Linked DNA regions of Homo sapiens. The protein of the gene in region 3 binds, or shares a complex with, the protein of the main gene of each other region. Each region holds a gene or a part of one and is shown on either strand. Other genes may lie near its edges. The genes, in order: MED31, MED21, MED4 and MED12. A codon is read from its position in the direction of its gene.

Region 1 (7,942 bases), on a different chromosome or scaffold from region 3:
AAACTAAAATCTTCTGCAGACTGAATAAAACACCCAAAAGGGGCTAATTTGCAGTCTCTCTTGAATGTAAATATCTGGAAGGCTGTTGTCCTCAAGAGGGTATAGAATGGTTCTAGCTTCATCCAGGGACAAACAGACTGGGGCTACAAGGAGGTACATTATATCACAATATAAGGAAGAACTTTCTAATATCTGGCTAACAATCGAATCAGCTGTCCCTGACAGAGTAACACGGGCTCAATGGAAACCTCCAGAGTGTAGATGACCATCTCTCGGCAACGTTGTGGGTAAGATTAAACTTGTTGGTGGCTAAGGCTTCCAACACTGAGTCTGTAAATCTACATACATACAATATTCGTTGAAGTCTACTTTTCTTAAAAGTCTGTTCTTTGGATTATTAAATGGATAAAAAGCCAGAAAAGGTGCAAACGGTCCTGCAGGCAACATAAGACGTATGTGCTTCGTGAGTCAATTGTTATTGGACACAGAAAAGTGACTTTGAGAGAAGTTTGAAACATTTTCCTCTCAAACTTTTTTTTTTTTTTAAAGGTTCATTATTGCTTTCTACCTGCTTAAGACAAAGCAGGGGTGTGAGTTCAAGGTGGGTTGGTTTTTTTTGTTTTTTTTGTTTTTTTTTTTTAACCATTAAAAGGGAATTGCTTTGTGGTTATAATATGTTTCTTGCAACTTAGTAAGCCTTAACATGAAAGTGTCTGCTGAACGACCTGAATGGTAAATATATATATATAAATGAGTTAATGCATATGAAGCATTTAGCACTGTTCCTGGCAAATAAGAGGCCTTAAATAAAAGACAGCAACTCTAAGACTCAGGTAAGATCACCTCCTTCAAATAACCCCAGAAACACCTTCCTTACAGATACCCTCTTTTAATTTCAGCCCATGGCTTATGCTACTACATTTACAGATTGTGAGTTCTTAGGGACCAGAAACCTGGTGAGATGGGAAGGGTGGTAAAAGACAAGGTCAGAAAAGGCAGGGCCAGATCGTATAAGGCTTTAGTCCAAGAAAAAAGACTGGATTTTATTCTGCATGGAATGGAAAGCCATTGAAAGGTTCTAAGCAAGAAAGTAAAGTGTTCTGATTTATATTTTTAAAAGATTAAGCTGGTTTCTGTGTAGAAAGCTGTTTTGCTTGGTTTGGGTTGGGGTGGAGATGGGGGCAGGAAGGTAAAAGTGGAAGCACAGATAACCAGGGAGTAGATTACTGCAGTGTTACAAGTTAGAGATGAGGGTGTCTTGTATTAAGACGGTGATAACAAAAAGAAGTGGAGAGATTCCAAATACATTTTTGCCAATGTGAAACTAAGAAATCTATTATATAATAAAGTATACACATGCTTAGGATTATAAAAATTAAACTTACTTTAGATACTTGGCATATTCTGGGTCTTTCCAGTAAAGCAAGTATTTAAGATAATTAACAAAAGCTTTGTCTTTGAAGTAACCTCTTTGGGCAAGAACTGAAAAGCATTAAAAAAAAAAATCTGTAGGTCAAACCAATCCTTAAACTGTGATTTGTTACCCCTAATATAAAGGATCTATTTACATAACACCCCCACCACCAACACACATTGGATTCAAAACACAAGTCCCAGTACGCAATTATATCTATATACCAGCATAAGTGTAATGTCATTCAACTGAGAATGTGTAAAAGTAGATACTATTTTGAACTGCAACTCTTCTGTCAGAAATCATTAATAGCTACTCAATTTAATGAGGTGCTTAACAACTTACAATTAAGGTAATTTGGGTTGGCTAAACATTGCACAAATTCCAACTCCAACTGAAACCGAAGTCGATTTCCAGCATCATCTAGGAGACAAGACAGCAAAAATCATGGAAAACAAAGGTCACTGTATATAATACTGATTTGTAGTAAGGAAAGAGCAATAAAGAAACCTGACTAATGTTGAGATGGTCTTCCTAAACTAGGAGTGGGAGGAGATAAACCTTCCTTCGAAATCTAAGAAAAGCGGAGCCCTGATTAAAAGGAGTAAGTTAGAAGTTTCTCTAAAGTTAAAGAGAAATCATCAAAGAAAACAGCAACACAAACGGAGAATTCCTACCACTCGTGGGCCACTATGTAGGAATTTTAACAGTGATCACTAAGGTAGGCTGTAATAACTGTGGCTTCCCCTATTTTAATAATGCGTTGTAACAACTGTTAACAGTGATTAAGTTTCGCAAACGCTAGGGGCTGAATCAGTAAAGAAAAACTTAGGATGCAAGAGACTGCGGAGAGCCTAAAAGATCATGCAGCGCATGCATATAAGAAGCACCAGGGTCAGGAGATCGAGACCATCCTGGCTAACACAGTGAAACCCCGTCTCTACTAAAAATACAAAAAAAATTAGCCGGGAGCGGTGGCGGGCTCCTGTAGTCCCAGCTACTTGAGAGGCTGAGGCAGGAGAATGGCGTGAACCCAGGAGGCGGAGCTTGCAGTGAGCCGAGATCGCGCCACTGCACCCCAGCCTGGGCGACAGAGCCAGACGCTGTCTCAAAAAAAAAAAAAAAAAGAAGCACCAGTAGCAGAATGATACACAAGTCTGGCGACGATATTTCAAACTTAGGCAAGCTCATGTGAGAAGCAGAAAACCAATCAAGGAGGACACGGTTTAACACACAAGTCCTCTCCCTTAGTCTCACCCACGCCAGGGAGCTGGTGGGGTGGTGTCTGAATAGCAAAGATGTGCGAACAAACCAAATCAGGAAAACTGCAAAGAGTACCTTAGTCTTTCTAGACGCTACAAGAGCCTTCTCTCCTCTCTGTCCAAATATTAACCCTGCCAAGAGTAAGGCCTGGAAGGAGGCCACGGGGAAGAGGTCTGGGTCAAGGAGAGTTCCATCTGCGAAGACTCCAAGATCAGAGAGCTACTCACCTGTCTCCATAGCGACAGCAGCGGCCATAACAAACGAAGACACCAAAACGCCACCAGCCTGACAGAGCAAAAGCCCAGAGACGCGGGCGAAGTTCCGGAAACCACGGCTCCCTCTTCCGGTCCCGGGGCACTGTGGGATATGGGGCGGGGCGGCTCCGCCCATCCCCGACCAGCCCTGGGATGGCTCCACCCGCGCTGGCTCCAAAATAGCGAGGGGGCGGGGCCCGGGCCGTGGGAGCGCCTGAGGGGCAGGAGTCCAGTGTTTTAGCCTTCGAAGGACCATGGTGCTTCCACGTCATCGTGTTGTGGCGCTCCCGGCTATGGCAGTACCGTAGTTTTCCTCTCTTCTGCCTGCGGTGACCATTGGGCTGTAGGGTGCCCCGAGGCCTCCCTGGCCCCCTCACGCCGGCAGAATGGCCTCAGCCCGAGGGGCCAAGCAGTCTTCGCCCCGGGTGGGGACCACCCGCTACACAGAGACGTCCACGGTCCGCGTGGAGACCTCGTCCCACCGCGTGGAGACGTCGTCCCGGCGGGTGGAGACCTCCCAGCGCCGCAGCGAGGGGCCCTCCCTCTCCCCCTCGGGGAAGCGGCTCCCTCGCATCCTCGAGGCGTCCTCCCGGCACGTGGAATCCTCCTCGCAGCGCACGGAAACGACCTCCCGCCACGTCAGAGCCTCGTCCCTGAGGGTGGAGACGTCTCTGCACTGCGCGGAGAGCCCGACCCCGCGGGCCAAGCCGGCCGCCCGCCAGAACGAAAAAACGGCCCGATGAGATGCTGCTTCCCAAAGGCCACCAAGGGGCCAGGGCCCTCAGCCAGGACAGAAAGGCCTCCAGTTGCCAGCCAGCCAGCCAGCTGCCAGGTGGACCAATCATTTTCGGTTTCATGGAAACAAACCATAAATCAATGTAAGAAACAGCCAAGCCGCAGTTTCTGAACACAGCCAACGTTTACTGACCGTCCTGCGTCTTGGACCAGCCTACTTTTGACCCAGTGAACTATTTTCACTTGAAGCCAGCACAGAAGGTTTTCAGGCCCAGGATGCTGTCTAAATCGGGTTGATGGACAAAGAGAGGCTGTTTGAGCCTCTGAGCCAGGTGAGTTTGGGATCCACAGCCCTCAGAAAACCTTCACCCCTTAGGAACAGAGACCAAACTGAAATAATGACCTGTGGAATGATTCCATGCCTGCTAAAAACTCGAGGGACAAGGAACAGACTCATAAATTATTAATTGGCCTTTGTTTATGTTTCAAAGTAAATGGTCGTTTTCTTTATGCTAAGTCTTTGTACCTGGCACCCCCATCCATACACTTTTTTAAGGTAGGTTAGATGTGGTTAAAAATGACAGTAAACCCACCAGCAAGCAAAAATAATCTTAGAAAGTGAGAGGAGGTCACTGAAACCTGGCCTGAGGTTTGAAGAAGATGGAGAAGAGTTATATTTATTGAGAACCGGCTCTGTGCCAGGCACTAGATGTTCCTCCACTTACGATGGGGTTACCTCCCGTTGAAACTATTGTAAGTTGAAAATATGGTAATTTGAAAATGCACTTAATACCCCTAACCTACTAAACATCATGGCTTAGCCTAGCCTACCTTAAACATGCTCAGAACACCTAAAGTTGAGCAAAATCATCTAACAGAAAGCCTGTTTTATAATAAAATGTTGAATATCTCATGTAATTTATTGCATACTGTACTAAAAGTGAAAAAGAATGGTTGTAAGAGTACTTAAAGTACTATTTCTACTGAATGTCACTTTTGTACCATTGTAAAGTCGAAAAATCATAAGTCAAACCATCTTAAGTTGGGAACTGTCTGTATTCTGGGAACTTGGGCTATAGCAGTAAAAAAGGCAAAGTCCCAGCTCTAGTGGAGCTTACACTCTGGTGAAAAGGCAGACAAGCAATGATGAAACAAGACAATTTTCTATTGTGATTAGCACTATGAAGGAAATACATGGGTAATGTGATAGAGAATGGAAGTAAGTGGCTTCTTTTGATAAAATGGTCAGGGAAGGCCTTGCTGATTAGTTAACATGTAATCTGAGATATGTGTGAATGAACAGTGATCTGGAACAGGTGCATTCTAGGCAGAAGAACAGCAAATACAAAGGGTGGATGGGAACCAGCTTTGAATGTTCAAGGAACAGAAAGAAGGCCAGTGTGGCTGGAGTGAGAGAGAAGCAATTATATAGACATGGAAGCAGAACGGAAGAGAGGAGTTAAAAGCAAGCAGGGGCCAGTCCACAGAAGGTCTTCTAAGCCACAGTAAGGAATTTGAGATTATTCTAAGGTCAACAGGAAAACATTGAAGGGTTTCCAACAGGGGAACGACATGATGCCATTTACATTTAAAAAATATCCTTTTGGCTTCTGTGTGTAGAATGTGGGACAGTGGTTCTCAACTAAGTGTGATTTTGTCCCCCAGAGGATATATGGCAACCTCTAGAGACATTTTAGTTTGGTTGAAAAGTTGTTGGGAGGGGGTGGGTGGCACATTAGGTGCTACTGGCACCTAGCGGGTAGAGTCCGGGGATGCCACCTGACATCCTACAGTGCACAGGTCAACACCCTCCCCTCTGCCAACGATGAAGAATCACTGGTCCCAAAATGTCAATAGTGCCAAGGCTGAGAAACACTGACAGTTCTAGCAGCTTGGAAAGCTAGAGCATGGTCTACTGGGACAGCGCACCACTTTAAGGAACAGTCATGGAAGAGGGTTACCTTTAAAAGTAAAGAGAAATCATCAAAGAAAACAGCAACACAAATGAGACACAATACCTACCACTCATGGGCCACTATGTAGGAATTTTAACAGTGATCTCTAAGGTAGGCTGTAATAACTGTGGCTTCCCCTATTTTAATAATGCATTGTAACAATTGTTAACAGTGATTAAGTTTCGCAAAAGCACGTGCTGAATCAGTTAAGAAAAACTTAGGATGCAAGCTGAACAAGAGACTCCAGAGAGCCTAAAAGATGATGGAACATATGCATATATAAGAATCACAAGTAACACAATGATACACAGGTCTGGCGACGATATTTCAAACGTATGCAAGCTCATGTGAGAAGCAGAAAACCAATCAAGGACACGCTTTAAGACACAAGGAGGACACGCTTTAAGACACAAGTCCTCTCCCTTAGTCTCGCCCACGCTGGGAAGCTGGTGGGGTCGTGTTTGAATAGCAAAGGTGTGCGAACAAACCAAATTAGGAAAACTGCAGAGTACCTTAGCCTTTCTAGACGCTGCAAGAGCCTTCTCTCCTCCCTGTCCAAATACTAATCCTGCCGGGAGTGAGGCCTGGAAGGAGGCCCAGGGGAAGCGGGAGAAGAGGTCTGGGCCAAGGAGAGTTCTATCTGCGAAGACTCCAGGCTCAGAGCGCTACTCACCTGTCTCCAGGGCGACGGCAGCGGCCATAACAGGCAAAGACAGCGAATCGCCACCTGCCTAACAGAGGAAAAGCCCGGAGGGGCGGGAGGAGTTCCGGAAACCACGGCTCCCTCTTGCGGTCCCGGGGCACCGAGGAATATGGGGACGGTGGCTCCGCTCATCCCCGGCCAGGCCCGCTTAGCCCGCGCTGGCTCCGGAATGGCGAGGGGGCGGTGCCGGGCTGTGGGAGCGCCTGAGGGGCAGGAGTCCAGGGAGGCAGACTTTTACCCTCAAAAGGAATGAGTCCCAGAGCCTGGCACAAGGAAGACAAGTGTGCAAAGTTGGTGGAATGAATTCGGTGGCCTAAATGTACCTTCCTCAAATGCCACGGCTGACTGGGTCTCCTCGCCCACTTCACCCTCTCTTGCAATCCAACTTGTGAGGCGTGTGTGTGTGTGTGCATGTCCGCGCTTGCCTTTAGATGGAGGTTGGCTTCCCAGCCATCCAGGCTTGCATACACGTGCATAACTCCTACCCCTACCTCGCCTGCCTGCTGTACCAGGGGTTGATTCCTTCTTCCTGCGTGTTTTCTGTCCAAATCCTTTTCTGATTTGGACAGAAAACACGCAGGTGGCACACAGTAAGCGCTTAATAAATTTTCCGGCTACCTGATCTTCTTGGAATTGAGGGCATGCTCCTGTGCGCCCCTCATTGCACAGAGCTCCCTTGTCTGGAAACTCAGCAGTCACCGGAGCCGCCGTCGGTCCTCTCGCTTTCTCTATTTTAAAAAACGTTTCAACCGCTAGCGCTGTTGGATCTCTACCTTTCAGGCTTTATCACCTGGGGTGGAGTGGGTGGTGAGAGGGAAGGGATGGGGAGTCAAGACAGGAGAACGCTCTCGATTTCCCGACCCACCTCCCGTCATATCTCATGTCATATCTACCGGGTGTTCTACCCGGTCCTGTTACTTTTTTTCTTCCGCGAAAGCCCAAATTCCCATCACTGCTCTAGCTCTCTCCCAGATCGCCAAATCCGGATGTCTGTCTCAGGGAACGTCAAAGCAACATGCCCGGATGAGGTCCTCCCCTCTCCCCACCTCCCAGCCCTCTCCTCCTGCCTCCCCCGGTGTCACCCGCGCCTCCTTCCTCTCTTCACCTCCCTCTAAACAAGAATCCGGCGCAGTCAGTTCTAGACCCTGAGCATCTCCCGCGTCCCTGCCCAATATCCGTCCCGCCCCCGATCGCCCGCGTCCTCTTGAACCTGCGGAGCCCTGCTCCCCGCACTCCACGCCCTTGCTCCGAGCTTCCGAGAAAGCGGGGCAAAGGGAGCCAGAAAGAGAGAAAATGCGCACGGAGCAGGTGGCCCCGCGACTCCATGGTGAGGGGACGGGGCACGGAAGGTGGAAAGGCGCGCTCCCTCCTCCCTTTTTTCCTCCCTATGGTGGGCAGTTGGTGACACACAGTAAACGCTCAATAAATGTTTCCGCTACTCGATCTCCTTGGAATTAAGGGGATGCTCCTGAGCGCCCCTCATTCCACACAGCTCTGGTGCCTGGAAACTGCGGTCGCCGGAGCGGTCGTCGGTCCTCCCGGTTTCTCTATTTTAAAAGCCATTTCAAACCTCCAGCGGCCTCGCCACCTCTGCTGCAGACCTTCCAAGCCCTTCTGA
Region 2 (7,954 bases), on a different chromosome or scaffold from region 3:
TTTCCTTCTATCACTGTTGCTTAGTTCAACCAATTATCTCACACCAGAATTATTACAATAGTCTTCTTGTTGTTTTCCAGTTCACCAGGTTATTTATTTTAACCTGATCAAAACATTTAAGCTTACTCCACCACTGTCTTCAAGATAAATCTCCAACTCAGGCTGTTTTGAAGCTTTCAATAATCTAAGTCAACTCTACTGACTCGTTTTCCACTACTCCTTCATATTTATCTAACTAGTCATAAAGTCACTTATGACTAAATGGCTTTGCCCAGGTTTTGCTAATTGTAATGGAGCAATAAGTGCTCAGATGCTATACAAACCTAGATCCTGATCCTAGCTCTATTAATCCAAGCAGCATTTTTCATTTTTAAATTGGATACATTCTCCTATTATAGCATTGTTGTAATAGAGGAAACACACACAAAAAAATATTCAACACAGTGTCTATCTTTTCCATCCTTCAAAAGCTTTTAAGATCCATTTAGTCAACAAAAATTTATGGAAAATAACTAAAGTACTGCATATAAACACTACAGAGACATAGTGAATGCGACATAGCTTCTGCACTCACGGTTTTCAGAGGGTAGAACAAATGTTAAAAGTTATACAAATAATTCTGATTAGGATAAATGCTAAGAAGATTCCCCCTATTTTGGTTCACATCACTCCATATTCCAATTTACATCAGAACCTGAAGCTGAAAATACTCAATTCATTATAACTCCCTAACCACATACTGTTTTTCCATCACTTAAATGTCTCCTGAGTATTTGACATTTTTTAACCTCCTTTAGGAGTATCTCTTTGTAAACATGATGGTGCTTACACACAGTAGGCACTCATACTAGTTATCCTAAAGGCTTTTCTCCAAAATCCAATTATCATTATGCCTAACCTGGAGTTAAGGCCATATTCACTCTGTCCTTATTATCCTTCTAGTTACAAGACATGTATGAATATGCAAAATTTTCCCTAAAATAAGATTTCTATCCAGCAGCATCATTACAATTTGATTTCGTAAAACCTCAAAGGAGTAGTTCCCTGAGGAAGGCTGGCTGGCAGCCCAGGCAAGTCCCTGCAGGGTAGAATTTATCTTGGTGAATTCAACACTTAGAGGCTGGTCCTCTCAGCTTAAAAACTAGTGTTATTCACCCAGGGTAGATCAGTTTTATCACAAGTAGATTCACACTCTTCAAGTGTACAAATTCTGATGTATTAAGAAAAATGCCAAGTTATTAGCTTACAGTGAGGAAAAAAAAAACTGGCAAGGAAACCAGGTACTTAGGTTTTCCTATCAGCATGTTTTCTCTCTAGCCCCTTATCTAGGACATTAAATCACAATCAGACAATGAGAAACATAACTATCAATGGAAAACTATTTAGCAGAAAACAATCTAACTCGTAATGGTAATAAGTACACCCATTGCCGCATGGGAATACCCACTGACGTCTTGGTCAACGGGATGCACATATTATGTCAGTCCCCTATGGTTATAATAAAGCTGAAAAATTCTTATTGCCTAGTGACATCGTAGCAGTACTAACGCTGTAGCGCAATGCGTTCCTTAGTGCTTGTGGTGATGCTGCTGTAAATCAACCTACCACACTGCCAGTGTATGAAAGCATAGCACATACAATTATGTGCAGTCCATGACACTTGATAATGATACTAAATGACTTTGTTACTGGTTTATGTATTACTGTTTTATCGTTATTTTACATTGTACTTCTACTTATTAAAACAAAAAAAAAAGTTATCGCCAAAACCATGCATTTCTCAGAACATGACCCCTTCATTAGGGGCCCATGACTGCGCATCCTCTGGCTTTGCTTCTACTTTCCACTCAGGCATAGTGTGGAGGAAAAATAACCAGAAGGAACAAAGCTGGGGAGCTACTTACTAGACTTGGCCTTTAATAGAGAGTAGAATTTGGGGGAGACATTAAAAAGGACTTGTAGGCCGGGCACGGTGGCTCACACCTGTAATCCCAGCACTATGGGAGGCCGAGGCGGGAGGATCGCTTGAGGCCGGGAGTTTGAGACCAGCCTGGACAACATGGTGAAACCCCGTCTCTACTAAAAATACAAACATTAGCCGGGCGTGGTGGAGGGCGCCTGTAATCCCAGCTACTTTGGCTCAGACAGGAGAATCGCTTGAACCCGGGAGGCGGAGGATGCAGTGAGCAGAGATCGCGCCACTGCACTCCAGCCTGGGCGAAAGGCACTGTCTCCAAAGTAAAAAAAAAAAAAAAAAGAAAAGAAAAAAGACTCAAATAAGCGGAAAGACATACGAGGATTAGAAGATTTCCTATCATAAAGATGTCCCCAAACTGATGTATTCTGAGGGATGGCCAAGAGGCAAGAGATGGAAGGATACTCTGGGCCCAAAGGAACGAGCTAAGATGAAAGAAAATCTCTCACCTCACCTCAGCATCGCTCCCGCACCAACCTGAAAGCGCTGGTGAAGGAATACTCTCGGCTGACATTTCATTACAAAAACCCAGTCATCCAGAGCATGAGATCTCCCTTGGTGGATTAAAATTGATGAGGAAAGAAAAAAGCTCCTGCTTCTCCTCCCAACCCCCAAAAGAAAGAGAACCCGTAAGCACCACTGACAAGAAAATAAAACTGTCCTCAGGGAACACGACAGGACCGCGCAGCCCACAAGTCCTGGCGGCCTCACCCGGACAAGAACGATCTTCCCGGTCTCCTCAAGCGAAAGAGTCTGCTCCCTCCCGCACCTTCAAGCACCGCCCGGCAGCCGGCCTCAAACCTCCGAGTTCGCGGTGGCGCCTCCCGAGAGAGCGCTTTATGCCGAAGCCCTGTCTCTCAGTCCGCTCCCCACTTTCAAGTTTTGCCTCTTGGGCCCCTTTCCTCCCTTGCTTTACCTCAAGAAAGAGAAAGACAGAGGCTAATCGAATGAAATTCCTCACCGAATTCACAGCGTCCTGAAGCTGCGTGAGCCGATCCGCCATGTTCCTACCGCAGCAAACAGACGCCAAAACAGCTGCTCTTCCGCGACTGGGCAGCTCTGGCACGCGTCATGGCCAATCACAGGGCTGCGTCCTTGGAACGGGTGGGGTCGGAGAGAACTCCCCGCCCCGTCAGGAGTGGGTGGTACTCCCGAGGCGGCCTTTCTAGAGCGGGCTACACCTGAGGAGAGGCTGGATCTTTTGAGTAACTGGGGGAATGGTCTGGGGTCCAATCGCTTTGAAATACAGTCCAAGAGCCGAAATACTCCCCTTGGGGTTGTTAGGTGTTAAAGGCTTCAGAGATTGTTGGATTCTGCGGGGATTTTTTTTTTTTAAGTAATTTCTCGTACCCTCTCGTGTTTATTTATTGACCAAATTGAAGAGTAAATATATTTATTTTTATTTATTTATTTATTTATTTATTTATTTATTTGAGACGGAGTCTCGTTCTGTCGCCCAGGCTGGAGTGCAGTGGTGCGATCTCGGCTCACTGCCAGCTCCGCCTCCCGGGTTCACGCCATTCTCCTGCCTCAGCCTCCGGAGTAGCTGGGACTACAGGCGTCCGCACCACGCCCGGCATTTTTTTTTTTTTTTTGTACTTTTAGTAGAGACGGGGTTTCACCATGTTAGCCAGGATGGTCTCGATCTCCCGACCTCGTGCTCCGCCCGCCTCGGCCTCTCAAAGTGCTGGGATTACAGGCGTGAGCCACCGTGCTCGGCCAAGAAAAATTAGCTGCACAATTTAGATTTAGAGTTGGGACTTATTGAGAGTTTAAGTGTGAAAAGTGATAATCGAAACTTGGTATTTAAGGAAATTTAGCCTGAGGATAGTCTGGTAAGAAATGAGTTTGGAATCGGCAAATAACAGGTTTGTAGACTTCAAAAAACTCTCATATCCTCTTTCTCAGGCTGATTATCCGTGATTACCTTCCTGTGGCTGCGGGGAAGGTGGAAGACACAGTCCCTGGGGAACTCAGCTTGTTGGATTTATCCCAACACTTACTGTGAAGCACCACTTCTGCTTCACACCAATGCCCCACCCTCAGCCCCAAACAGTCTACAGACTTACTGGAGCCTCATTAAGAACGTGGATGAGGCATGTTCCCCATAATGGGACTAATGAGAAATCACTCTGTAATTTGTTTTCACTGTAACTTGGGGGGATTCTACAACCTTCTCCTCCCACCCTCACTTGAGAGTGTACCTTACGGAATGGCTGCCACATGCCAGGAAGTATATCCAGTGCTCAATTTGCAAAGATGAATAAGCCAAGGACTCACTAAGGAAGGTTTTGCAGTTGTCCAAGATTAAGATGAGCTGGGCCTAGAATAGGGTGTTGACCCTGATAAGCGGGGAAAGAAAGACTAAAATATATTTTTGAGAAAAAAAATTAATATGGATTGGTGACTGATTGGATATAGTTTAGTCCACTCCATAAGAATACTAAGTTTTGCAGCCTGATTGAAGGGAACTTGGGCAGTTGAAGTAGAGAAGCCACTTCAAGACATTCATATTGTGACACAGTTTTTGTCCTGCCATTATCTTCCTAATAGGTCTTCTGTGCCTCCACAGAGACCTCAGGTTGATGTCCAACTATCTCTGCCTGGTTTTCAAGATTTACTATAATCTGGCTCCAGCAAACAGACCCAGCCTCACCTCCTGATAATTTTCTGAGTGAAATAATCTGTTTCAGCCAAGGTCCCTGACCCCTTGGTTTTCCTGGTTCTTCAGCCTCTTTCGGCCACGGATCTTTTTAAGAATCAGATAAAAGCTGTGGACCCTTTCCCCAGACCAGACTCTCAACTTAGCCTACATTTGAAAAGGGGTTTAGGAAGCTCTTGAAGCTGTAGACTTCAAGAATAACCCACCTGCCAAATATAGTCTGTGCATCTAGCTCAGGATTTCTCAATGGCTGCACTCTTGACTTTTCAGGCTAGATTATTCTTTGCTGTGGGATGCTGACCTGTGCACTGTAGGATGTTTAGAGCATCCCTGTCCCTTACCCCTGAGATGCCGGTAGCATCCCCCCAATCCATTTATGCCAACATAAAGTATCTCCAGATAGTCCCAAATGTTGCTGGGGGGCAAAATTGCCCCCAATTGAGAACCACTGGTCTAGCTCTTTCCTCATTCTTTACCTTTCCCAAAGCAATTTCTTTCCTGCTATTTAATCCTTACCCTACCTTTTTAAGCTGTACACTTCTCATATAAATTTTATGAATTGCTAGAGTCCATAGGGACCTCTCCTTTCTTCCTTTCATGATTTGGACACTTTCTCATATGCTTTTCCATTTGCTTCTGTTGCATCGCCAACTGGATTATATGGTTTTAGGAGCAGGAACCCAGTATTACAGATCTCATATTTTAAACACACAATTTTGGTGAGTACTTTCTTTGAAACTTTATATTATTAAAAGTTTCAAAGATATAGAAAAGTAGACAGTATAGTGAACCCTCGCATACCCTTTACAGCTTCAGCAGTGAGCCACTCAGTCAATCTTGTAAATGCTTTGGTTTTTATGACTGTAGCAACTATTTTTTAAGAAAAACACCTTTAGCAATTTTTAAATAACTTTAATACTCACAGTTGCAATTTATTAAATATCTAAACTGTTCTTAGTGCCGGGATGAATAACTATAAATAAGCATTTTTCTATACCACACTCTTTGAAATTCCCTAAACATGTTCTGCTGTTTTACAAAAATGCACACCATATAAAAACACCTATAATTATTTCTTCCTTGTATGAAATGCCTACACTTCCATCCACATCTCCACTTTGCTCCCTTGGTGATTGTCCACACAGTACTCAAACCTTATTTTATTATTTATTTATTTATTTGAGACAGAATCTCACTCTGTTACCCAGGCTGGAATGCAGTGGCACGATCTCAGCTCACTGCAACCTCTGCCCCCAGGGTTCTAGTGATTCTCCTACCTCAGCCTCCAGAGTAGCTGGGATTACAGGTGCCCGCCACCACACCTGGGTAAGTTTTTTGTATTTGTGTAGAGACGGGGTTTTGCTATGTTGGCCAGGCTGGTCTTGAACTCCTGACCTCAGGTGATCCACCCGCCTTGGCCTCCCAAAGTGCTAGAATTACAGGCGTCAGCCACTGTGCCCGGCCTATTATTATTTTTTTTACTTGCCACTATACTAGTGAACAAAATCTTATTTTAAACATCTCTTTATAAAAGCCTTTCCTGAATTCTGAAAGTTAAATGCTCCCAATCTTTAACACAATTGTTCCTTACACTTCTGTTATTGCACTTAGCATACTGTGCTGTAATTATTTGTACATCACGCTAATTCACCCACCAGTCCATGGGCTACTTGCAGGCAGAAAACATATTCTGTTTCCATATTTCCAGTACCTAGCACCTAACTTTTAGCCTGGCACATATTTATCAACCAAATGAATGAGTTTCCTAGCATAATAATTTCCATATAATAGCTACTAAACAAGCATTTACTGAATTTAACTTAATGAACAAAGAATGTAAATTACTACCCACAAAAGAGCATAAGAATTAAAAAATACAGGATGAAGGTGAGATTAGAGTGGGAAAGAATGAATGGGCAAATTTCACAGAGGTTCAATCCTGCCTTTTCCCTGGATCCCCACTCCCAGCTCCATTTAAGGTATTTTAGGTTTTATTTAAAAAGCTAGGGTAAGTTTTTTCCCTTCCTCCTTCTCTCCCTCCTGCCCTTCCTTCCTCTTCTAAATTTTAACAGACTTTTGTTTTATTAGATACAGGGTCTTGCTCTGTCACCCAGGCTGGAGTACAGTGGCATAATCATGGCTCGCTGCAAACTCAAACTCCTAGGCTCGAACAATTCTCCAGCCTCAGCCACCTGTGTATCTAGGACTACAGATGTGCCCCACCATGCCCAGCTAATTTTTTTTTCTGGTTGTGTGTGTGTGTGTGTGTATGTGTGTGTGTAAGAATGGGGATCTCACTATGTTGCCTGGGCTGATCTTGAACTCCTGGTCTCCAGAGATCCTCCTGCCTTGGTCTGCTAAAGTACTGGGATTACAGGTATGAGCCACTGCGCCTGGCCTAAACAGACTTTAAGCCTCTAATGATGCATATCTTGGATTTGGGAATCTTTCAGTTTCTGCATTTCCTTTCAATACATAGGAAAAATGAACTAATCTGCAAAGCTGCTAAGCTTGTTTGCTTCTCAGCTCTCCAATGGAACTCTGACATGAGCATGGAACCCCAGCCAATCATCCTCCCAAGCTGTCACAATACTGTACTTAGAAGCCAAGGTAATGAGGCCCTGTTCTGATTGCTGACACATTTGTCATCAACTGTCATGCATGCACAGGCAACTGCAGGCCTGGGGAACTGCGATGCAAAGGTATGGAGGAGAGAGAATAGGCTCAGTTCAGGAAATTGAAATTAATTCAATGTGGCCAGCATGTAGAGGTCTGATTTTAGTTGCAGCAAGAACCTAGGGAGGTGAGCAGGAGTTGCATCACAAAAAGCATTTATGTGTCATACTCAGGAAGGTGGACTTATATCTTGAATGCTTTTATAAGAAAACCTTTAAAATTATATGTATCTTTTACAAAATCATAATTTCTTATTTAAAAATGATACACTTCAATGTAGAACTTTTACACAGAAATGTGCAAAGGAAATCATTCTTAATTTAACCACCTAAAGATAACTATTTTAAACATTTTGGCATATATTTTTCAACCTTTTTTTCTATGTACATAACCAGGAATGCATACTACAAAGAAAACAAGGCAGGCACAGTGGTGTGAGCCTGTAGTAGTCCCAGTTAGTCTGGAGGCTGAGGTGGCAGGATTGCTTGAGTCTGGTGACAGACCAGGAGCACCGTCATCTCGGACAAACACCGCCACTTTAAGTTCCAGCTCCCTTTCTAGCCTCATGCATTTCAAGGAAATCACTTCTCTTCTAACTATAAGCAGCCAGAAAGAGCAGACAGTAAAACACAGATAAGACA
Region 3 (7,185 bases):
AGGCACAAGAAGGATAAGACATCAGTTTGACAAGAGCCCCTATCAGAACAATATGAATTCTACTAAAATTGAAGCAAGAATATCAAATTGATGGTGAAGCTTGTGTGGAAGAATGGTGAAATCTTGATGCTTTATGAAAAGTTTATGAGGACAATGCCCTAAAGAAATCAGCAGTTTTACAAATAGAAAACTCATTTGAAGAAGGGATGAGATGATGTTGAAGATAAAGCCTGCAGCAGCAGACCATCCACATCAATTTGCAAGGAAAATATTTATCTTGTTTGTGCCCTAATTGCAGAGGACAAGCAATTAATAGACAACACTATAGACATCTCAATTTGTTCAGCCTATACAATTCTGACTCAAAAACTAAAGTTGAGCAAACTTTCCAATCAATGGATGCCAAAACTGTTATGCCCAAATCACCTGCAGACAAGAGCAGGGCATTCAATGGAAATTTTAAACAAGTGAGATCAAGATCCTGAGGCACTTCTTTGAAGAGCTGTAACAGGAGATGAAAAATGGCTTTACCAGCACAATCCTGATGATAAAGCAAAATCGAAGCAATGGCTATCAAGAGGTGGAAGTGGTCCAGTCAAAGCAAAAGCAGACCAGTCAAGATCAAACAGCATGGCAACAGTTTTTGGGATGCTCAAGGCATTTTGTCTGGTGACTTTCTGGAAAGCCAAAGAATGATAACAATGGCTTATTATGAGAGTGTTTTGAGAAAGTTAGCAAAAGCTTTAGCAGAAAAACACCCGAGAAAGCTTCACCGGAGAGTCCTTCTCCACCACAACAATACTCCTGCTCATTCCTCTCATCAAACAAGGACAATTTTGGAAATGTTTCAATGGGAAATCATTGAACATCCACCTTACAGTCCTGATCTGACTTCTTTTTGTTTCCTAATCTTAAAAAAATCTGGGCCAGGCTCAGTGTCTCATGCCTGTAGTCCCAGCACTTTGGGAGGCCGAGGGGGGTGGATCACTTGAGGTCAGGAGTTTGAGACCAGCCTGGCCATCATGGCAAAACCCCATCTCTACTAAAAATACAAAAATTAGCTAGGCATGGTGGCACATGCCTGTAATCCCAGCTACTCGGGAGGCTGAGACAGGAGAATCACTTGAACCCGGGAGGTGGAGGTTGCAGTGAGCCAAGATTGTGCCACTGCACTCCAGCTTGAGCAAGACAACAGAGCAAGACTCTGTCTCAAAACTAAATAAATAAATAAAATCTGTAAAGGGCACTCATTTTTCTTCAGTTAATAATGTATTGGGAGGATTGCTTGAGCCTGGGAGGTCAAGGTTGCAGTGAGCTGTGGTTGCACCACTGCCCTCCAGCCTGAGTGACAGAGAGTGAGACCCTGTGGCAAAAAAAAAAAGAAAAGAAAAAAGTAAAAAAGACAGCATTGACACGGTTAAATTCCAAGGGCCCTCATTTATTTAGGGATGAACTAAATGGCTGGTATCGTCATTTACAAAAGTGTCTTGAACTAGATGGAGCTTATGTTGAGAAATAAAGTTTATATTTTAAATTATTATCTTTTAATTCCATTTTTCCATGAACTTTTTGAAGTCCTCTCATATTTTAGGTCAGAGGTTCCCAGTCCTTTTAGTACCTGAATATCCTTCTTTCTTTACAGAGAGCTGGGATAACCAGTGGTAAAGAGCACAGACCCTGGAGCCAGACTCTGGGTTCAGATTCCAGCTTTGCCATTTACTATATGACCCCGGCATGTGTCTTAACATTTCTGCCCCTCAGTTTCATTATCTGTAACATAGGGATAGTAACAGTACTTACCTCATAGGAGTGTTAGGAAAATTAAACAAGTTAATATTTTTGAAGTGCTTAGAACACTGCCCACCATGTCAATAAAATTTCATGAGAAAGTAGTGTCCTTTTTGAATCTACAGATTGAGAAAATATGTACCTAACTCCAAATTACCATGAATTCAGTAATACTATATAAAATAATTCATATTTGTTTATCACGCCTGGATTTGTACAATTTGCAAGACAGTATATCTGTGAAAGATGCTATTACTTATCAGTCTATAGAAACTGTTTAATATGCATATGAATTTGCAATAAATCTGAGGAGGTCAGGAGTTCACAATACACATACATGCTCCACACACTGATCCTCAGTGTCTGCAAAGTAGGACTATAATTGGTCATTTTTAACTAATTAGAATCCTTCTAGAATTTTTATGTTTACACTAATATAATGTTCTCTCTCCTCCTACCAGAGTCATGGCTCAATATGACCCGTGAGAGTTGAGTAAACAAAACCAACACATACCGCAGAAGTTTGGCACCCTGGAAACTTAACATAAGAAATGATTGACTAGAGTACTGAGAGGCATGTTTAGAATGCAAGTGTAATGAACAAAGCTTCAATCTACTTTAGCCCATTGCCTGAGAATTGACTGCATTAACAAAAAAGGGTTAGCCAACAGCAGATGCAGGGAACGGTCAGAAAACAAAAGGTGACAAGGATCTCTTGCACTGTCTAGAGGAAAAGGTACCCTGACCTATGAACACAAATAATCCAATCTCTTGAACACAAATATCCCTACACTGTGGAGACACAAAGCCTCATGATTGTGTCATTAATTTTTAATCTATCCTTGTTTGTTCTGATCCAAGTTTAACAAGCAACATCCTGTGATAATATGGCTTCTCATATAGTTTTGTCTATGGGAAAAAGATATGTTTGGCACTATTACTTTTCATCGTAAGTGAGTAAATCAGCATTCTAGATTACGCAGCAGTTGCTATGAGTGAATTTATTTAACATGAATTTCTAAAAGACTTGTCAACTCTGGGTGCCCAGGAGTCAGGTTTAGCACCTCCAAAAAGACAGAGTAGAGGATGAGACCCTGAAATGAAAGGACTACAGGTACTACTACCTCATGGGAGTGAGGCAGTCCCAGACCATCTTTTATAATAGCAATATGGAATCCTCATTCCCAATAGGCTTGTAACTTTGCTTTTTTCTGGTAGAGAGTGATCCCTACTACATTGTTATCCCTAGGAAAAGTAGGCTAAGACGTATTTTTGCCTTTGACAACCAGTTCTGGTTTGGAATGTGTGGTACATCAATGACTTAAACTATGTTAATTAACTACTACTTATGTACTGTATTGGTTCCTTCAGTTCAATAATTAACCTGAGTAATGAGCAAAACATTTTGTTGGAAGATGTATGGCTATAAAGATGGATTATAGCAATGTGGAAGTAACCTAACTGTCCATCGTCAGATGAATGGATGAACAAAAGGTGCCATATGCATACAATGGAATATTAGTCTTAAAAAGGAAAGATATTCCAGCACATGCTACATCATGGATGAACCTGGAGGACATAATGCTGAGTGACATAAGCCAGACACAAAAAGACAAATACTGTATGATTCTGCTTATATGAGGTACCTAGAGTAGCCAAACTTACAGCAATGGAAAGTAGAATGGTGGTTGCCAGGGCCTGGAGAAGGGAGGGATAAGGAGTTAGCATTTAGTGAGTACAGAGTTTGTTTTACAAGATAAAAGGTTTTGGAGATGGATAGTTGCTCAACAGTATGAATGTATTTAATGCCACTGAACTATCCACTTAAAAATGGTTAAGGTGGGCCGGGTGCGGTGGCTCACGCCTGTAATTCCACCACTTTGGGAGGCTGAGGCAGGCGGATCACGAGGTCAGGAGATTGAGACCATCCTGGCTAACAAGGTGAAACCCCGTCTCTACTAAAAATACAAAAAATTAGCCGGGCGTGGTGGCGGTCGCCTGTAGTCCCAGCTACTCGGGAGGCTGAGGCAGGAAAAATGGCGTGAACCCAGGAGGCGGAACTTGCAGTGAGCCAAGACATCCGCGGCGATGCACTCCAGTCTGGGCAACAGAGCGAGACTCGTCTCAAAAAAAAAAAAAGAAAGAAAGAAAGAAAAAAAACCATTAGGCCCAGGAGAATCAGACTGCGTTGCCCCCACTGTTCTCAGTTCAGCTGTCGCTCCCAGGGTTTGGACCAGAAAGCCCTCGCCGGCCCAACAGATGGCGCCGGTGTCCGCAGTGCGCCTCCAGGCCCAAAGGGGGCGCTCTCGCCAGGCCTCTTTTTCCTCTCCTGGGTGACTCTTCCGCCTTCCGAGCCCGCCTTCTCGCCACGCACCTGCGTCAGCTCGCTCTGCGCGTGCGCCGGTGGCGGGACTCTGGGGAAAATGGCTGCGTCTTCGAGTGGTGAGAAGGAGAAGGAGCGGCTGGGAGGCGGTTTGGGAGTGGCGGGTGGTAACAGCACACGAGAGCGGCTGCTGTCTGCGCTTGAGGACTTGGAGGTCCTGTCTAGGTAATGCGGCGAGCCTGAGAGCCGGGCTGGAGCTGGGCCGGGGGACTGACCCCGGAGCCGGCCGGCCCTGCGTTTGTGCTCGTTCTCGGGGTTCGGCGGGGAGGGCCAGCTCGGGAGTTTCGGGTGCATGAGGGTCATGGACGTGGGGTCCGCAGCCCTCTGGCACTCTGGGCGGCGGTTTTTCCCGTTAGAGGGAATTTTAGTAATGATAAGAACTCGCGCGGTCTGAGCCTCTTCGTCCGCGGCCAGCCACTTAACATTTATGGAACGCTCCTTGGGGGCTCAGCATTGGGGAGACGGTAGTGAAGGGTAGACTGGATGCCAGCTGTCGAGAGAGAGACAGATGTGTAAACTGGCTTGGGGCCTGTTTTTATTAGAGGGCTGCGCTGCGGGGTACTGGAGCACAGGGACTAGGCACCTTTTTTGGTTGTAGTCAGGGCAGGCCCTCTGAAGAAAGTGCTGCTTGGGAAGCATGAGCTCGCCAAACTCACTAGGCAGCACAGATAGATGGAACAGCAAGTGCAAAAAGCCTGGCTTGGTGGAGTTGCAAGTTGTTTAGGATGGTTGTGTGTCAGAGATAGGAGATGAAATTAGATGTCGTTCTTCATATTCTGTCACCTTTCATGATAAGTCTTTCAAGTTGAAGCCTTCCTTGACTCCCTCCCATTGACTTGGATGGTAAATTATCTTGGTTCTACCTCCTAAAGTGTCGCTCCAATTTGCCCTCTCGTTCCAACCCCGCTGTTCATAACTCCTTCTTAAATGTAGCCTCCCAAACAGTTTTAATTGCCTCATGCTTCTGCACTTTATCCTTTTATATTGGCCGATACCAGTTTTAAAAGGCATCTTATATCACTTTTCTGCAGAAAAATTATATAAAAGCTACCTCATTGGTAGGTTTGCGTTGTCCAGTGAGGTAAAGTTCAAATTCTTTAGTCAGACTTCCACATCTTCAGTGCCATTCCCAGTCTACTCCCGATTTGGTGAATGATTCATATATCCTTCAGAATCCAGCTCAAATGTCACTTTTTCTATAGCCAACATTCTTTGACAGCTTTAGAATAAATCTTACCTGTTGTATTTTAAAATATACGTGATATAATCAGCACTTTATTTTTGGTGTAAATTTAGTCCTTGCCATCGTATTGCTACCAAGTTACCAGGTCAGCACAATATTTAATGATGGAAGAAAACCCGAAAACACCTAGACAGCAGAAATTAAATGGCTTATGTGTTTGATCCACTGTTTAAAATAAACTGTATTAGGGCCGGGTGTGGTGGCTCACGCCTATAATCCGAGCACTTTGGGAGGCCAAGGCGGGCGGATCATTGGAACTTCTTCACAGAATGAAGCTGCTCTGGTGGTGTGACTGGCTTCCAGAAAGGTCTCATGTGTTCACTCAGAGGTAGTTATGTGTACTGATTCTGTGATCTGTGAAGTTTGTCAGTCTCTGAATGTAATTTGTGTCTGGCTTGCATTTATGAAAATGAGAAGAAAAATCACGAATATACCTTACATATTTTTAGATTTAGCCTCTTTAAAAATAGTGGATTTATAACTTAGGATCTTTTTTTTTCTATTAACCTGATTATATAGCCTTTCGGGATATTTATTAGTTTATAAAATGTAATGCAAGGAGATAGTCTTAAAAAGTTGAAACACAGGTTGTAGGCTAAACGTTTTTTTTAACCCATTTGTAACTCAAAACTCATTGTTCCACAGAACCATGTTGATAGGAATCTTGAGTTTTCCACACCAGCCTGTTAATTCTGTTTACCTGAAAAGTGTATTACTGCTAATAATGTAGGCTCTAACCGCTATGGAAATTTTATTTCTATGGGGAATTGTGTCTGGATTCTAATGCAGTATGCTGGGAATGCACCTTCTTTTTAGCAGGACAGGGCTCTTGAGTGTGGGGGCTTCCTTTGGCCTCTTTTTCGCAGTTGGGGAGGACAGGGGTTTCTATTTTGTCCTGGACTGTTACAGAACATGACTAAGTCTTAGAGACTTCTACCTCCCCTCTACTCCGGCGCCTAAGGCAAGCCTTGTAAAGCCTTCTGTGGACTCACGCTCCCAGATTTGCAAGAACAGAGGAAGGCTTATCCCACATCTCCTACCATAGCCCCACTCTAGTCAGCACCACTCCTGCCCCACCTGAAACCAGCTTTTACTTAGACCAGAGGTTCTCAACCGTCTATGTCTCACTTGTGGCGTACACTAAAAAGTTTACTTAACATGCTGTTTTCATACGCTGTTGATCCATCAGCAAGTCCTGTTAGCTCTACCTCCAAAAGATATCTGAAATCTGTCCATGTTTCTCCCATCACGATTACTAAGTCCTGGAGGCTATAACCTCGTCAAAACCAGTGTCATTTTTTGCCTGGAACACTACAGAAACCACCTAACTTACTTCCTGTTCTGGCCCTCTTACAGTCTATTTACCAGATCACTCAACAGTTTTTAAAAGTATAAATCAGGTCATGCCATTTCCCTGTTTAAAATAACCCAGTGGCTTCTCATTGCATTTAGAATGAAACACTAGGCCGGGCGCAGTGGCTCATGCCTGTAATCCCAGCACTTTGGGAGGCCGAGGCCGGCGGATCACCTGTGGTCGGGATTTCGAGACCAGCCTGACCAACAGGGAGAAACCCCATCTGTACTAAAAAAAAAATACAAAATTAGCCGGGCGTGGTGGCACATGCCTGTAATCCCAGCTGCTAGGGAGGCTGAGGCAGGAGAATTCTTTGAACCCGGGAGGTGGAGGTTGGGGTGAGCCGAGATCGCGCCATTGCACTCCAGCCTGGGCAACAAGAGCAAAACTCCATCTCAAAAAATAAAAAATAAAAAA
Region 4 (7,730 bases), on a different chromosome or scaffold from region 3:
GGCAAGCCGGCGGGACAGGTATGCAGACTGAACAAATTCCCCAGAGTACTGTGAAGACACGACCATCAGAGCCCCTAGTTCTCTCCAGGGGACCCTGCTCTAACATTTTATTCTTCCTCAAATTCTTCTTAGACTCCCCCTGCCCCACCAGTACCAAAATTCCAAGCCTTACTCGGAGAAGCAGAGGCAGCAGCAGTTTAAGCAATTCATCCTCTCCAGGGCGGATCTTCTCAAAACACTCAAGCACCCAGGTCAGGAACTCATGTCTGTCCAGCATTCCATCCTATGGGTACCAGGGGAGGGAAGAGGGGACTATTAGAGATGAAGCAGATAAAGTAAATGAAAAGATGAAGAGAACCACAACTGGGGCAAGGTGGCAGGCAGATTCTGTTCTCTACTGGCAGAGTACAAGTTCAAGCTCAACCCAATGCCCCACACAGCATGCCCTACTCTCTACCTGAAACATGAACATGGCCAGCTTCTCGGTGTAATCCCACTGCCGGATTGCCACCTCTACATCATGGGGCAAGGGCCCTATCGTGGAACCACAGCCCCCACTTCCTGCAGGCCCTGGCCGGTAGTATTCAGCCATCTTCTGTAACTGCTCCCATAAGTACTTGGTGATGATCTGAGTCCATTCTGGAGGAAAGAGGGAAAAAGGGCTATTTGATACTATCCTTCTGCTTAGAATATCCTTCTACTGGCTGGGTGCGGTGGCTCATGCCTGTAATCCCAGCACTTTGGGAGGCTGAGGCAGGTGGATCACGAGGTCAGGAGTTCGAGACCAGCCTGGCCAAGATGGTGAAACCCCGTCTCTAGAAAAATACAAAAATTAGCCGGGCGCAGTGGTGGGCGCCTGTAATCCCAGCTACTCGGGAGGCTGAGACAGGAGAATCACTTTAACCCGGGAGGTGGAGGTTGCAGTAAGCCAAGATCCTGCCACTGCACTCTAGCCTGGGTGACAGAGTCTTGCTCTGTCTCAAAAAAAAAAAAATCCTTCTACTTAGAATACCTTACCCCCACCCCTAATCACCATATTTGTAAATTCAGTTCATCCTTTTAGTCTCTAGTCAAATCCCACCTTCCTAAAGCCTTTCCGGGTACCCCCATAAGAAAGTAATCTTTTGTCCACTCAAAGAACCTTCTGCTCCTAGCTTGACATTCACCACTTTCTATATTTAATTATGTTATTTGTACATATACCTTAGCAGCCCTGTTAGACTACTAGTATCCTAGGGGCAGAGATTATGCACCGGACATCTTTGTAGCCCAGTATATGCGCACAGTAGACACTCAAATTTCTCAGTGTTTACTGATCAAACAAATGCAAGAAACAAGCAGAAACAAGGAATCTAGATTAAGAAGGAGGATGGTTCCAAGGGTGTCTCTATCACTCCTTGAAGCCATCAGCAGTACACCTGGTGTTAGGAGTTACTCACCCATGAAAGGGTCAACATGTCTCTTCTTAACCTTGGTCTCAGAGATTGCTGCATAGTAGGCACAGGTCATCTTAATGAGCCAGGCAGCCCGCATCACAGGCACTGTGTATTTGGCTAAGTACCCAAACACCTCTTCCTTCTTACTGAAAATGGGGACCTGGATGGACATTGCAAATAGTGAGGTCTCTATTATCCCCATGAGCTGACACCCATGTAGCTTAATATGGGAATAGGAGGGTACTTGGTACCCCATGCTCCCTCCTTGGCCTGAAGGACAGGAAACAGTACCTTACCTTTTTGGCTAGTTGCGTGAGTGGCTTGGTGCCAGCCAAGTCAGTGAACCAAGTGTTAATGGCACTCTGGGATCGTGCAGTCACCAGCCAGAAGTTATCCTTCTGGTTCACTTGGGGCTTCCTGCGACCAGTGTCAGGAAGGGTATTACAACGTAATTTCTCTGCAATAATGCTGCTGAAGTTGGAACTGATCTGAGGGAAGAAAAGTGTACCTCAGGGTGGGAAGAAGGGGCAGACAGGTGGTCCTGCCTTTTGCTGGGCAAATGCCAATGAGATAGTATTAGGTCATGAAGGCAAACTCAGCCACTTAGGTTGTCCCTATAAGTCTTCCCAACCCAGGGCCTTTGCTCCTTCTTAGATTCTTCCAGCCTTTTCCTTCAGCCTGGCAGAGTTGTCTCACCTTGGCAGGATTGAAGCTGACGTTCTTGGCACTGCCATGCTCATCCCCAGAGACAGCAGGCTGGTTATTGAAACCTTGTTTTACATTCAAGGCCGTCAGTTCATCCTGAGGCAGGAAAGCGGCGTTTAGTTGTTTTTTCCTTAGGGGAAGGGGGAAGGGGTGGGAGAGTAGGGCAGGAGAAAAGAAGGAACAAGGTGAAAGGGCAGGAGGAGGGTTCCGTGTAGAACAGATCGTTACTTAAAGCTGGGCCCTTACGTTCACTTGGACCCCACCCTCACTCCCATGGTCACTAGGATTCCCAGCCACCCAGCGCGCCCTCAAACATCACTCTTCTCTTGCGAACAGCCGAGCAGCCGTACCCCACCAAGCTGTCTCAGACAACTTTCTGAGGTGTGTGTGGAGGAGGGCGCCTCTGGTGCGGCCCCTACACCACCCCCTATTCATACCTTGGAACCCCCCACCGCCCCCCGTCCTGCCCTCCCACGCCAGCCCACTTTACTCTTCCCCCTTTCGGGACTTTTGCTCTCACCGAACCGCCCCGCCCCCCATTCCCAGCCGTCAGTGCCTCCTCCTAGGCTGACCGCGTGCCCCCGGCCCCTCCAGAGCCCCGATTTTCGAACGCACCTCCTTCTGTTTGGGGTCCTGAGGGTAAACATCGGGAGGCCCCAGCCGCGGCCGCTTCAGGGGCCGGTGTTCGTAGCTCAAGATCCCGAAGGCCGCCATCTTGCCCAGCCCGTAGCGCCGGAGGCACCAGCAGGGCCAGGCTGACTGGGGGAACGGGAAGGGGGAGAGGGAGCCGAAAAGGGGGGCGGTGGTTGAGAGGACGGCGGCCGAGAGACAACAAGGGGGCACGTTAGAAACTCTCGACCATTGCCGGAAACTACCGAGGGAAGCCGAGGTACGCCGGGAACCATCGGACAATACCGACTGCAGAGGAGGTGGGGCCTGGCCCGGTGGGGGCGGAGCTCTGTGCCCCGGGAGTTTTTCGGCGGTGGCGGCAGCAAGTCGATTTCACTCAGCAAAAATCTATGAAACGTTCCGGAGGCGCAGAATGAGCTGGGGATGCAAACCAGGGAAGAAGGAGGCCTCTGTGGTGCTGAGTTCTGACTGGACTTCGGTTCCCATAGCCTAGCTCGGTTTTGGCCTAGAAAAGTCTTCAATAATATTTGCATTGGTTAGGAACTCCGTCTATTACAGATCAGTTCGTTTCTTAGTTCCGGCATCTGAAAAATAGGTGCGCTAACACCTCCTTCAAGGGGCTATTGTGAACATTAGAAACTATGTATGCATGAGAAAGAACCTATTAAACCCTGAAAGGCTGGCTCTAATCCCTCAAGGTCTACCATCGAGTTGTCTAACCTTTTCTTGTTTGTTTTTCTGCCCAAGGGTACCGCATACTAACGTTTTTGATTCACAAACCCTTAAAGGTGCTGATGAAAGCTATGGACCTTCTTCCCAGAAATAATAATAATAATAATAATAATATGCATATATTGACATGCAAAATGTTGCTTTAGATTCTTAGATCCCCTGAAGTTCATCCATGTATCCCCTAAGGGTCCATGAACTCCAGGTTAAGAACCCTTGGTCTAGCTAAAGAGGCACCTATTGTGTCAGATGCTTTTCAGACACTATCTCCTTTAATCTGCTCACAGCCTCATGAGTTAGGGATTATTATTGGCTCGATTTTGCGGATGGAGGAAGCTGGTTTTCAAAGTGTGAAAATTCACTTATCCAATATTATACAGCTACTGAGTAACAGAGCTGGCACTAAGATTCTGAATTCCAGAGCCAATATCCTATTGTCGTATTGCTATTTGTTTATTTTGAGGCAGGTTCTCCCTCTGTCGCCTAGGCTGGAGTGCAGTGGCGCTATCACGGCTCACTGCAGCATCAACCTTCTGGACTCCAGCGATCCTCCCGCCTCAGCCTCCCAGTAGCCTGGACTACAGGCGTGCGCCACTGTGCCGGCCTTGTATTGCCTTTTAGAGAAAAGACAGCCAGTGTGCTGTAACAAAAGTAACAAATAACAATAAACAAAAATAACACCAGTAACAAAAATAACAAAATGCTATTGAATCACAATGGAAAGAAGAAGTAATTCAAGGCGGGGAGTGGTGGCTCACGTCCGTAATCCCAGCACTTTGGGAGGCCAAGGCAGGGAATCACCTGAGGTCAGGAGTTCAAGACCAGCCTGGCCAACGTGGTGAAATCCCATCTCTACTAAAAATACAAAAATTAGCTTGTGTGGTGGCAGGCGCCTGTAATGCCAGCTGCTCAGGAGGCTGAGGTAACATTTGAACTAACTCTGAAGGATATTTTTATTTTATTTTATTTTTTATTTTATTTATTGTTTTGAGACGGAGTCTCACTCTTGTTGCCCAGGCTGGAGTGCAGTGGCGTGATCTCGGTTCACTGCAACCTCCGCCTCCCAGGTTCAAGTGATTCTCTTGCCTCAGCCTCCCCAGTAGCTGGGATTACAGGCTTGCGCCATCATGCCTAGCTAATTTCTGTATTTTTAGTAGAGACGGGGTTTCTCCATGTTGGCCAGGCTGGTGTCAAACTCGTGACCTCAAGTGATCCGCCCACCTCGGCCTCCCAAAGTGCTGGGATTACAGGCGTGAGCCACCACGCTCAGCCTGAACGATATTTTATTTATTTATTTATTTATTTATTTATTTATTTATTTATTTTGAGACTGAGTTTCGCTCTTGTTGCCCAGGCTGGAGTGCAATGGCGCAATCTCGGCTTACTGCAACCTCTGCCTCCCTGGTTCAAGCGATTCTCCTGCCTCAGCCTCCCGAGTAGCTGGGATTACAGGCATGCACCACCATGCCCAGCTAAATATTTTTTTGTTGTTGTATTTTTAGTAGAGACGGGGTTTCTCTATGTTGGTCAGGCTGGTCTCGAACTCCCGACCTCAGGTGATCCACCTGCCTCCACCTCTCAAAGTGTTGGGATTACAGGCGTGAGCCACCAACCTGAAGGATATTTTTAAAAAGATAATTTTTCTTTTCTTTCTTTTTTTTTCTTTTTTTTTTTTTTTTGACAAGGTCTCACTCAGTGGCCCAGGCTAGACTGCAGTGGTGCAATCTCACTTCACTGCAACCTCTACCTCCTGGGCTCAAGCAAACCTCCCACCTCAGCCTCCCAAGTATCTAGGATCACAGGCGCTGGCCACCACACCCGGTTAATTTTTGCTTTTTTTTTTTTTTTTTTTTTTTGGTGGAGACAGGGTTTTGCTATGTTGCCCAGGCTGGACTTAAACTCCTGGTCTCTAGCGATCCACCCACCTCAGCCTCTGAAAGTGCTGGGATTACAGGCATGAGCCACAGCACCCAGCATAAAAGAATTTTTTAGAGCAGTTTTAGATTCACAGCAAAATTGAGAGGAAGGTATGGAGAATTCCCATATACTGTCTGCCCTCACACATAGATAAACTCCCCCATTGACATCCCCCACCAGAGTGGGCCAGGCATGGTGGCTCATGCCTGTAATCCCACCACTTTGGGAGGCCGAGATGGGTGGATTGCTTGAGCCCAGGAGTTCTAGACCAGCCTGGGCAACATGGTAGAACCTCTATCTCTCCAAAAGCAAAATAAAACATTAGCAGGGTTTAGGGGCGGGCGCCTGTAGTCCCAGCTACTCTGGAGGCCGAGGGGAGAGAATCACTCGATCTCAGGAGGTGGACGCTGCAGTAAGCCATGATGACCCCACTGCACTTCAGCCTGGGCAACAGAGTGAAACTCTGTCTCAAAACAAAACAAAACAAAACAAAACAACAACAACAACAACAACAACAACAACAAACCCACCAGAATGGTATATTCGTTAGAGTTGATGGACCTACCTTGAACATCATTACCCAAAGTTCATGGTTTACGTTAAAGTTCACTCTTGATGTTATTTTATACAGTCTGTGAGTTTGGACAAAGAATAACATGTGTCCACCATTGTAGTATCTTACAGAATATTTTCACTGACCTAAAAACTTTTTCTGCTCCACCTATTCATCCTTCCCTCTCCGACAACCCCTGGCAACCGTTGATCTTTTTACTGTCTCCATAGTTTCGCCCTTTCCAGAATGTCATATAGTTGGAATCCTATAGTAGGTGGCCTTTTCTGCATGGCTTCTTTCACTTAGTCATATGTATTTAAGTTTTCTCCCATGTCTCTTCACGGCCTTAATAGCTCATTTCTTTTTGCACCGAATAATATTTCACTTTCAGGATGTACCACAGTTTATCCATAAACCTACTGAAAGACACCTTCGTTGCTTCCAAGTTTGGGCAATTATGAATGAAACTGCTATAAACATCCGTCTGCAGGTTTTTATGTGAACACAAGTCTTCCACTCCTTTGTTTTTTTTTTTTTTTTTTTTTTTTTTGAGACGAAGTTTCGCTCTGTCGCCCAGGCTGGAGTGCAGTGGCGCGATCTCGACTCACTGCAAGCTCCACCTCCCGGGTTCACGCCATTCTCCTGCCTCAGCCTCCTGTGTAGCTGGGACTACAGGCACGCGCCACCATGCCCGGCTAATTTTTGTATTTTTAGTAGAGACGGGGTTTCACCGTGTTAGCCAGGATGGTCTCGATCTCCTGACCTCGTGATCCGCCCGTCTCAGCCTCCCAAAGTGCTGGGATTACAGGCGTGAGCCACCGCGCCCGGCCTCCACTCCTTTGTTAATACCAAGGAACATGATTGCTGAAAGAGTATGTTTAGTTTTATAGGAAACTGCCAAACCGTCTTCCCCAGTGGCTGTACCGTACCATTTTTGCATTTCCCCCAGCAACAAGTGAGAGTTGTTCCTGTTGCTCCACATCCTTGCCAGCATTTGGTGTAGTCCGTGTTCCGGATTTGGGCAATTTTTTTTTTTTTTTTTGAGACAGGGTCTCACTCTGTCACCCAGACTGGAGTGCAGTGGTGCAATCTCAGCTCACTGCAACCTCCGCCTCCCAGGCTCAAGCAGTTCTCCTGCCTTAGCCTCTCAAGTAGCTGGGATTACAGGAATGCGCCACTATTGCCTGGCTAATTTTTGTATTTTTTAGTAGAGACGGGGTTTCACCATGTAGGCCAGGCTGGTCTTGAACTCCTGACCTCAAATGATCCACTCACCTTGGCCTTCCAAAGTGCTGGGATTACAGGCATGAGCCACCATGCCCGGCCTCTTTTTTTTTTTTTTTTTTTTTTAAACAAGAGATGGGATCTTGCTGTGTTGCCCAGGCTGGTCTCCAACTCCTGGGCTCAAGCAACCCACTCGCCTCAGCCTCCCAAAGTGCTGGGATTTCAGGCAAGGTGTGAGCCACCTTGCCCAGCCCATTTTGGCTATTCTAATAGGCATGTAGCCCTGAAGGATTTATTTATTTTATTTATTTTATTTTTTAGGCAGAGTCTTGCTCTGTCACTCTGGCTGGAGTGCAGTGTGCGATCTCAGTTCACTGCAACCTCTGCCTCCTGGGTTCAAGTGATTCTTGTGCCTCAGCCACCTGAGTAGCTGGGACTACAGGTGAGTGCTACCAAACGTGGCTAATTTTTGTATTTTTGTAGAGATGGGGTTTTGCCTTCTGAAGGATTTTAGCCTACAGAAAGTTAGGAAGAGG

What was found.
Region 1: the proteins of MED4 (region 3) and MED31 are in contact, whole or in part, in a cryo-EM structure (PDB 8TRH), measured with the Homo sapiens proteins. Residues at the interface, in NP_054885.1 of Homo sapiens: Glu147, Tyr151, Arg154, Ile155, Asn159, Ala160, Val161, Cys162, Ala163, Pro164, Trp167, Arg173, Arg174, Pro175, Tyr176, Pro177, Met182, Leu186; in NP_057144.1 of Homo sapiens: Gln19 (codon at 1,811), Glu23 (codon at 1,799), Gln26 (codon at 1,790), Cys27 (codon at 1,787), Ala29 (codon at 1,781), Asn30 (codon at 1,778), Pro31 (codon at 1,775), Ala64 (codon at 1,399), Lys65 (codon at 1,396), Tyr66 (codon at 1,393), Leu67 (codon at 1,390), Lys68, Tyr69, Pro70, Gln71, Asp98, Ile102, Trp105, Gln106, Tyr108, Ser109.
Region 2: MED4 (region 3) and MED21 share a complex: the UniProt entries of both Homo sapiens proteins name them as parts of the mediator complex.
Region 4: MED4 (region 3) and MED12 share a complex: the UniProt entries of both Homo sapiens proteins name them as parts of the mediator complex.

The regions. Positions count from the first base shown.
Region 1 is NC_000017.11:6,648,597-6,656,538, forward strand, and holds the start of MED31 (mediator of RNA polymerase II transcription subunit 31), read right to left. Parts: upstream 3,010-7,942; 5' UTR 2,933-3,009; coding exon 2,905-2,932; intron 1,838-2,904; coding exon 1,760-1,837; intron 1,483-1,759; coding exon 1,386-1,482; intron 1-1,385. Other genes in the region: uncharacterized protein C17orf100, read left to right, coding at 3,318-3,674. UniProt on the Homo sapiens protein: Component of the Mediator complex, a coactivator involved in the regulated transcription of nearly all RNA polymerase II-dependent genes.
Region 2 is NC_000012.12:27,017,604-27,025,557, reverse strand, and holds the start of MED21 (mediator of RNA polymerase II transcription subunit 21), read right to left. Parts: upstream 3,001-7,954; 5' UTR 2,979-3,000; coding exon 2,937-2,978; exon of another isoform or gene 2,687-2,936; intron 1-2,686. UniProt on the Homo sapiens protein: Component of the Mediator complex, a coactivator involved in the regulated transcription of nearly all RNA polymerase II-dependent genes.
Region 3 is NC_000013.11:48,092,105-48,099,289, reverse strand, and holds the start of MED4 (mediator of RNA polymerase II transcription subunit 4), read left to right. Parts: upstream 1-4,185; 5' UTR 4,186-4,211; coding exon 4,212-4,336; intron 4,337-7,185. UniProt on the Homo sapiens protein: Component of the Mediator complex, a coactivator involved in the regulated transcription of nearly all RNA polymerase II-dependent genes.
Region 4 is NC_000023.11:71,113,880-71,121,609, reverse strand, and holds the start of MED12 (mediator of RNA polymerase II transcription subunit 12), read right to left. Parts: upstream 3,015-7,730; 5' UTR 2,856-3,014; coding exon 2,757-2,855; intron 2,238-2,756; coding exon 2,133-2,237; intron 1,925-2,132; coding exon 1,733-1,924; intron 1,597-1,732; coding exon 1,440-1,596; intron 640-1,439; coding exon 458-639; intron 284-457; coding exon 173-283; intron 49-172; coding exon 1-48. UniProt on the Homo sapiens protein: Component of the Mediator complex, a coactivator involved in the regulated transcription of nearly all RNA polymerase II-dependent genes.